3 separate regions of the Homo sapiens genome follow, and regions 1 and 3 are each linked to region 2. The links come from fine-mapping of genetic effects on gene expression. A gene starts in region 2. Each other region holds a variant in brackets. All regions are shown on one strand. Distances are between the middles of the regions.

Region 1 (2,844 bases), 58 kb after region 2:
GGTCTCAAACTCCTGACCTCAGGTGATCCACCTGCCTCAGCCTCCCAAAATGCTGAGATTACAGGTGTGAGCCACCATGCCTGGCCCACACTTCTTTTTAAAAAGAAGGACCAGGCTGGGCAACGGTGGCTCATGCCAGTAACCCCAGCACTTTGGGAGGCTGAGGTTGGAGGATCACTTGAGCTCAGGAGTTCAACACTAGCCTGGGCAACATGGTGAAACGTTGTCTGTACTAAAAATACAAAAATTAGCTGGGCATGGTGTTGTATGCCTGTAGTCCCAGTTACTCGGGAGGCTGAGGCAGAAGGATGGCTTGAGTTCGGGAGGCAGAGGTTGCAGTGAACTGAGATCACGCCACTGCCCTCCAGCCTGGGTGACAGAGCAAGACTTTGTCTTAAAAAAAAAAAAAAAAAAAGACCAGAACCAGTGCCATGCTGAAGCTGGCTTGCACTGGATCCTAAAAGCCAATTATGTGCATTTCCCAACTTTGCACTGGGATTTCCAGTTGGTGGCTTGAAATGGGCTTTTGTGGAAATATTTACACCACAGAAATAAGCAAAGGCTACAAATCAGGGCTTCAGCACTCCAAGTGAGAGCCAGCCAGTAAACTTTTAGCAGCACGACACTGGCCAGAACTCTAACATGTTATATAAAAACACATAAACAGGCTGGTCACAGTGGCTCATGCCTTTGGGAAACCGAGGTGGGCGAATCCCCTGAGGTCAGCAGCTCGAGACTAGCCTGGCCAACATGGTGAAACCCCATCTCTACTAAAAATACAAAAATTAGCCGGGCATGGTGGCGCATGCCTGTAATCCCAGCTACTCAGGAGGCTGAGACAGGAGAATCGCTTGAACCCAGGAGGCAGAGGTGGCAGTGAGCGGAGATCATGCCATTGCACTCTAGTCCGGGCGACAGTGTGAGACTCTGTCTGAAAAACAAAACAAAACAAAACAAAACAACAAAACAAAAAAACACACATAAACAGAACTGCTTTGGTTGGTTGAAACAAGGGTTCCCCACTCCCCTCACACACATCAAGCTTTGCCAAAACCCAGGACTTGAAGTCTGAGATTTGTGCCAGCTCTCAATCCTGTGAGTCTAAGTAACAGGCCACAAGAGGTGATGCAGGAGGAAGAATGACGAACAATGATGAGGCTTAGGTTTTATGACTGTATTTAGCTAATCGAGCCTTGTCTGTGTGGGCAAGTCAACTTTGATGATCCAGGAAGCACCTCTGGAGTTGCTTAACCCTGCAGGTCCCAAGGCCTTCTGGTGGCCTCGGCAGGTAGTGGCACCCTCCAGAGCAGTCTCTCACTAGCGGATCTCTCAGTGGGTGGCAGGAGGATGGCTTTAGGGGAGGGAATGTCACCCACCTCCCCACAACTGTGCCTCTGCCCTGCAGG[G/T]TGAAGGTAAATGAAGTGACATTTGAATCCATTCAGATACTGCAGGAGAATGAATGCTGAATGAATGAATGAATCCAGGGAGAGCTGGAGCCAAATAAGCTTCATCAATTTATGTGGTGGGGAGGATGCTAGCCAGGAAGTGGAGGCCAGTGTTCAAATGCAGGGCTCAAGCCATAGCTCCAGCAGTTCCTGACCATGACATTTTTTGTATTTCAGTACCGTTTTGTAGAATGGGGCTACTGAACCAGGCTTAAAATCGTATTTCAGTCTGGTCTTTATGATGGGGACGGTAGGGGTGAACATGGAGCTCTCATTCTGCATGTAGTGGAAGGGCCCACCCCGCAAGCATGTTTCGCTGCTATTTTTGCCAAGGTTCTGTGAAGATTTCAATATTCCCAAGCTTGCTATCTTTCAAGCCTAGTAGAATCAGCTGGGCTGATATCTTCTAGCTGGTGGGAAAAAATGCCAGCAAGCAAAAGAAAAGGAGAGGAGAAACAAATGTTTGTAACTGAAAGAAACCTGGCATTTAATCTAGTGATTTCTATCTGCCAATCATCAGAATTGTCATTACCTGGGACAATTTAAAAAGTACAATTTCTAGGCCAGGCGCGGTGGCTCACGCCTGTAATCCCAGCACTTTGGGAGGCCGAGGCAGGTGGATCATGAGGTCAGGAGATTGAGACCATCCTGGCTAACACGGTGAAACCCCGTCTCTACTAAAAATACAAAAAAATTAGGCGGGCAAGGTGGTGGGCGCCTGCAGTCCCAGCTACTCAGGAGGCTGAGGCAGAAGAATGGCGTGAACCCAGTGAGCCAAGATTGCACCACTGCACTCCAACCTGGGTGACAGAGCGAGACTCCGTCTCAAAAAATAAATAAATAAATAAAAATAGGCTGGGCGTGGTGGCTTACGCCTGTAATCCCAGCACTTTGGGAGGCCAAGGCGGGCAGATCATGAAGTCAGGAGATCGAGACCATCCTGGCTGACACGGTGAAACCCCATCTCTACTAAAAATACAAAAAATTAGCTGGGCGTGGTGGCGGACGCCTGTGGTCCCAGCTACCTGGGAGGCTGAGGCAGGATAATGGCGTGAAACCAGGAGGTGGAGGCTGCAGTGAGCTGAGATCGCGCCACTGCACCCCAGCCTGGGCGACAGAGCGAGACTCCGTCTCAAAAAATAAATACATAAATAAATAAATAATTTTAAAAAATAAAATAAAAAGTACAATTTCTTACCCTGCCTCTAGACATACTGATTATTAAAAATCTCCCGTTGGGGAGGGGTCTGGTGTTTGGGAACCAGCACACTCCCTCTCCTGACCTCCCACAGCAGAGGGTGAAGGCTACCACCAGCTGACCAGTCATAAGACTTTGTCTTCTTTCTGTTTCTAAAAGAGATTTCCTCATTTTCCCTTAGCAAATAGGGAAAGACCAAAA
Region 2 (2,500 bases):
CCATTTTTCAGCCTTGCATCCACAGCCTGGAAAGGCTATGCACAGCCACCTGCTCAGTGTACTCTCAGTTGGCAATTGCTTGCATTGACCTAGGGGCTAGACTCCTACTACCTAGCATGGGCAAAATGTGGAAAAAGGGAAGCTTGACAAAGATTGGGGAGACCCTGGAGAAATGGGACATTGGCAGCCTTGCTATCTACCAGGACACTGGCTCCTATGAACTCCAGTGCACCATGGCAGGGGAAACCATGAGCAAAGGGAGTAAAATGCTCTGACCCTTGCTTAAATAAATGAGGCTGGAGGGAAGGGGTTTAAAACTAGAAGAGGTGGCGGGCGCGGTGGCTCACGCCTATAATCCCGGCACTTTGGGAGGCCAAGGCGGGTAGATCACTTGAGATCAGGAGTTTGAGACTAGCCTGGCCAACATGGTGAAACACCGTCTCTACTAAAAATACAAAACTTAGCCGGGCGTGGTGGCGGGCGCCTGTAATCCCAGCTACCCGGGAGGCTGAGGCAGAGAATTGCTTGAACCCGGGAGGTGGAGGTTGCAGTGAGCCGAGATCGCGCCACTGCACTCCAACCTGAGCGACAGAGCTAGTCTCCGTCTCAAACAAAACAAAACAAAACCAAAACTAGAAGAGGAAAACCACTCTGGTCTGGGATACCTTGGTCCCAAATTTCCTTCTTCCCCCTTCCCATTCAGCCATCTTCCTTCTCACCTCACCGTCTCTTCCTCACCCCACTGCACCTCCCCACTCGGGGCATGGTCCACAAGTCATTTCAACCTCTCCCACTCTCATGCCCTAATTTCTCCCCACAACCAGATTACCCTTTTCTCTATGTGTCCCCATCACCTTGCCTCAGAGTCTGGCCCCTAATTCCATTTTCCATTTTTCTTTTCCCATTCCACTAGTCTCCCTTCCCAGGGGGTACTTCCTGCCCTAAGCTCACCTACAGGCACCTACTATGGGCCAGCCACTTAATACTGACTACTCCCCTCAAGCCCCCGGGACACATCCTCCGCCCCGCCTGAGCTGCAAGAGATCCTCCTATACCTTTAACCAACCTCCACGTGCGTGTTAACCGCGGTGACAGCATTTCCTTGTCTCTCTGCTCCCGCCCCCAAAGGCGCTACCCATTGGCCGCTGGGTTCCTCTGTTCTCGCTCTAATTGGCCTCGTTACCGAAAAGCTCCAACCAATGACCTCTCCGTGTCTGTCTCCCTCCTCCGATCCTGGAAACTCATTGGCTCCGAGGACTTAGGACCTGTTAGCTTGGTTGGGCGACTGGCAAATCCTTCCTTCCCCGGGGTAGAAGTCCAGGGTGAGAAATTGGTTCCGAACTCAAAGGAACCCAGTGCCGGGCCACAGCCGGGTCACGTGGCCGGCGGCCCCCCATGACGTGCTGGCTGCGGGGCGTCACGGCGACGTTCGGGCGACCTGCCGAGTGGCCAGGCTACCTCAGTCACCTGTGTGGTCGCAGTGCTGCCATGGACCTGGGACCCATGCGCAAGAGTTACCGCGGGGACCGAGAGGTGCCGCCGCTAGGGCCAGGCCTCCTGCAGGGGCGGGGGAAAAGGGGTCCCCGGAGTCATCTACAGCGGGGAGGGGAGTAGTAGGAGCCCCTCGGGGCTTCTGGGGCCACCCGGTGGGGCAAGGAGGTTTGAGGATCACCCCCCGTGGGAAAAGGGGGCTTCAAAGACATCCCACCAGGGGAGGAGTTCCGGGGAAACGCAAATGAAGATGGGTTCAAAAGGCAGCCTTTCGTAATGGGTAAGAGCTCGAACTTTGGAGCCTGCCTGGGTTGGAATGTTTAATGTATCTGGGCCTCAGTTTCCTCATCTGGGAAGTGATAGTATCTGCCTCACGGGGATGTTATGGTCTAAGATGTTTGTAAAGTGCTTAGAACCCTGCTACTCGACAGGTAGCAAGGTCAAATAACTTGCTCAGTCCCACAGCTAGTGATGAATGAATCGGGGTTTCATGTGATGGATGTCAGGACTGTGCTGGGCCTCCCTCAAGGGCGGGGGAAGAGGGGTCCTCGGAGTCATCTACTGGGGGGAGGGGAGTAGGAGGAAACAGCCCCTCAGGGCTTCTGGGGCCACCCCCTGGGGCAAGGAGATTTGGGGGTCACCCAAACCTCCTTGTGCCAGGTGGGCATGGTCATGGGCCCCTCTTTAGGTGGGTACAGTGACAAACAGCTTACAAACTGTTTGACAAAAAAGTAAGTGGAATATGGGGGAAGGGGACTAGCTCGGGGAGGAGGGGAGGAGAAAGCTCTTAGCTTACTGCCTTCAGTACTTTCTGCTGACCACTGGGAAGTTCTTTTCCTTTTCGCTCCTCAGGAGGGGAACCAAGAGAACCTTTTAGGAATTGGGGTCCAGGGCCCTGGTTGCCAAATCTGGTTGCATGTGGGCATTTCTAGAAACGCTTGTTTAAAATGCAGTTTTTCCAGCCTGGGCAACATAGTGAGACCCTGTCTCTACAAAAAATTAAAATTAG
Region 3 (2,804 bases), 80 kb after region 2:
AAATGGTCCTTTTGGAGGGCCTTTTTTGGAATGATTGCCTGCAATTATCTGAATTAATTCAAGCACCAACTCTTCAAATTCTGAGAGTGGACTTGATTTTTGCAAGCTGCTTGGTGAGTAAGATCAGCAATCAAGCTGGGTGGTACTGTTTTAGATCAAGAATGAGAAGTGACTGTAATGAAAATATTTCGTTTTGGGGGTCATAAATTGACCCTGAATTCCTGTTCTCTTCTTTAACCCAGGTTCCATGTTGCTAGCAGAGTTCCTCCCTCAAAACATAGAGCTGATATCACTTAACAGCTTGAAAATCTTCAGTGGTTCCCTATTACCTTCAGAACACAGGCCAAGTTCTTTACTGACTTTTTGTTTTGTTTTGTTTTGTTTTTTTGAGATGGAGTTTCGTTCTTGTTGCCCAGGCTGAAGTGTAATGGCACGATCTTGGCTCACCGAAACCTCTGCCTCCTGGGTTCAAGCGATTCTCCTGCCTCAGCCTCCCGAGTAGCTGGGATTACAGGCATGCACCACCACACCCTGCTAATTTTGTATTTTTAGTAGAGACAGGGTTTCTCCATGTTGGTCGGGCTGGTCTCGATCTCAGGTGATCCACCCACCTTGTCCTCCCAAAGTACTGGGATTACAGGTGTGAGCCATGGCGACTGGCCACAAGCCAAGTTCTTTAGCTCTGTGGTTGGGGTAAAGAAGAGCCAGCAATGGAGTCAGACCAGAATGGGTTTAAATCCCACCTATGAGCTCTGAGGCAAGTTATTCAGTCTCTCAGACTCTCAGCTCTCTCATTTGTAAAAAGAAGGCTAACGGGCCAGGCGCGGTATACCCAACACTTTGGGAGGCCAAAGTGGACAGATCGCTTGAGCTCAGGAGTTTGAGACCAGCCTGGGCAACATGGTGAGACCTCGTGTCTATTAAAAAATTTTTAAAAATTAGCTGGGTGTGGTGGTACATGCCTGTGGTCCCAGCTACTCGGGGGACTGAGGTAAGAGGATAGCTTGAGCCCCGGAGGTTGAGGCTGCAGCGAGCCTATCAATACCTACTTTGTTAGGTTGTTTTGAGGACAATGGTAATTTTAAGGTGTATATAGTAGCAAACTCAATAAATAGCAGTCATTCTTCAGCATGGCATTCATTGCTCACTGCGACCCAGTTGCAACCTATCTAGAAGAAACCTCAGATCTCAACACACTCCCTGCAGACACACACCATTCCAGTTACATTTGCCTACTGAAATTCCTTAAACAATACAGAGATTTT[T/TTTTC]TTTCTTTTTCTTTTTTTTTTTTTTTTTTTTTTTTTTAGACAGGGTCTTGCTCTGTCCTCCAGGCTGGAGTGCAGTGGCATGATCTCAGCTCACAGCAGCCTCAGCCTCCTGGACTCAAGTGATCCTTCCACCTCAGCCCACGGTGCCCCCTCTCCCCCCAGTAGCTGGGACTACAGGCACACACCACTACACCCAGCTAATTTTTTTTTTTTTTGTAGAGGCAGGGTTTTGCCATGTTGCCCAGGCTGGTCTCGAACTCCCAGACTCAAGCAACCTGCCTGTCTCACCCTTCCTAAGTGCTGAGATTACAGGCATGAGCCACTGCGCCCAGCCTAAACGGAGATTCCTTACCTCTGGCCTTGCTTATGTTGTTGCTCCCTTTGGGGTGTCTCTTTCCCCATCTTCCTTCTTTACATGTTATGTAATACACCGTTTCCTCTGTGAATATTTATCATTTCCTTATCTGCATACATGACTTTGTCCCCAGCCAAATTGTAATCTCCTTGAGTCAGGAACTGTGTTTCCCAATTCATTTTAGAAGCTCCCAACAATCCCCAGCAAGGTACCTGGCCTGGAAACAGCCTGTTAGTAAATGTCTGTTGAACGAATTCATTCCAAAAGAGTTTATTTTATTATTATTATTAACGTTGCTTTTCTTACCAAAGGGTGCATTTTGAGGAATGGCGTTAATCTATATGTGCAGTATAAAATTTACATGTGTCTCACACTCTTATTTATTTAGAAACTCATCTAACATGTTTACCAGTTTCTGTTCATAGAGATGAGGAAGAGATTAGGAAACAGATGAGGACCATACACACATTGATGCTAGAATATAATTTGGCAGCCATTCGATTAATTTCTTTTTTTTTTTATTGAAGTATGACTTACCTACAGGAAAGAGCACATATCTTAAGTGTAAACTCTGTGACTTTTTTTTTTTTTTTTTTGAGACAGAGTTTCACTCTTGTTGCCCAGGCTGGATTGCAATGGCAAGATCTCGGCTCACTGCAACCTCCGCCTTCCGGGTTCAAGCAATTCTCCTGCCTCAGCCTCCCCCAGTAGCTGGGATTACAGGCACCTGCCATCATGCCTGGCTAATTTTTGTATTTTTAGTAGAGACGGGGTTTCACCATGTTGGTCAGGCTGGTCTCGAACTCCTGACCTTGTGATCCGCCCGCCTCAGCTCCCCAAAGTGCTGGGATTACAGGTGTGAGCCACTGCGCCCGGCCTGTGACTTTTTACTACTACTCAGATCAAGATAAAGAACATCATTTGATTTTTAAAGGCGTTTCTACTTTCAAATATCTCTTAAATCCCTTCCTGCCTTTTAACCTCCACCCTCACCCCACTACGGAGTCTAATCAGTCTCTCTCTTTCTTTCCCCAGTGCCTGGCTCATGGCAAACACTCAAATATTTGAAATAATGAATCAACAAACAAATATTGTTGAATGAATGAGACCTAAATTGGAAGGAAATGGAGGTCTGTAAGGTTGTGCCCAGACTGTTTTGGGTAAATTATTCAACATTACCTGCA

Direction of the effects. Alleles are on the strand shown, and positions count from the first base shown. SD is a standard deviation of normalised expression in the study named.
In carriers of allele G in region 1, the expression in transverse colon of the gene that starts at base 1,291 in region 2 tends to be lower than with T alone (moderate effect, 0.53 SD a copy in CEDAR).
In carriers of allele T in region 3, the expression in monocytes after interferon gamma of the gene that starts at base 1,291 in region 2 tends to be higher than with TTTTC alone (moderate effect, 0.55 SD a copy in Fairfax 2014).

What was found. PIP is the estimated chance that this variant, and not a neighbour inherited with it, causes the effect.
Region 1: its variant is fine-mapped to the expression of PNPO in transverse colon (CEDAR, PIP 0.95).
Region 3: its variant is fine-mapped to the expression of PNPO in monocytes after interferon gamma (Fairfax 2014, PIP 0.95).

What each region holds. Positions count from the first base shown.
Region 1 is chr17:47,998,588-48,001,431 of GRCh38, forward strand. No RefSeq gene overlaps it. Among named protein-coding and RNA genes, the nearest start is that of CDK5RAP3, 29 kb to the left of the region's middle. The variant G/T (reference allele first, on the strand shown) is at 1,407.
Region 2 is chr17:47,940,281-47,942,780 of GRCh38, forward strand. PNPO (pyridoxamine 5'-phosphate oxidase) reads left to right here and starts at 1,291. Exons shown (of 7, transcript NM_018129.4): 1 at 1,291-1,533. The coding sequence starts at 1,396. It overlaps SP2-AS1 (SP2 antisense RNA 1), which reads right to left and starts at 1,124. Exons shown (of 3, transcript NR_103857.1): 1 at 1,067-1,124. RefSeq lists an enhancer at 1,043-1,337.
Region 3 is chr17:48,020,428-48,023,231 of GRCh38, forward strand. No RefSeq gene overlaps it. Among named protein-coding and RNA genes, the nearest start is that of MIR10226, 11 kb to the right of the region's middle. The variant T/TTTTC (reference allele first, on the strand shown) is at 1,266.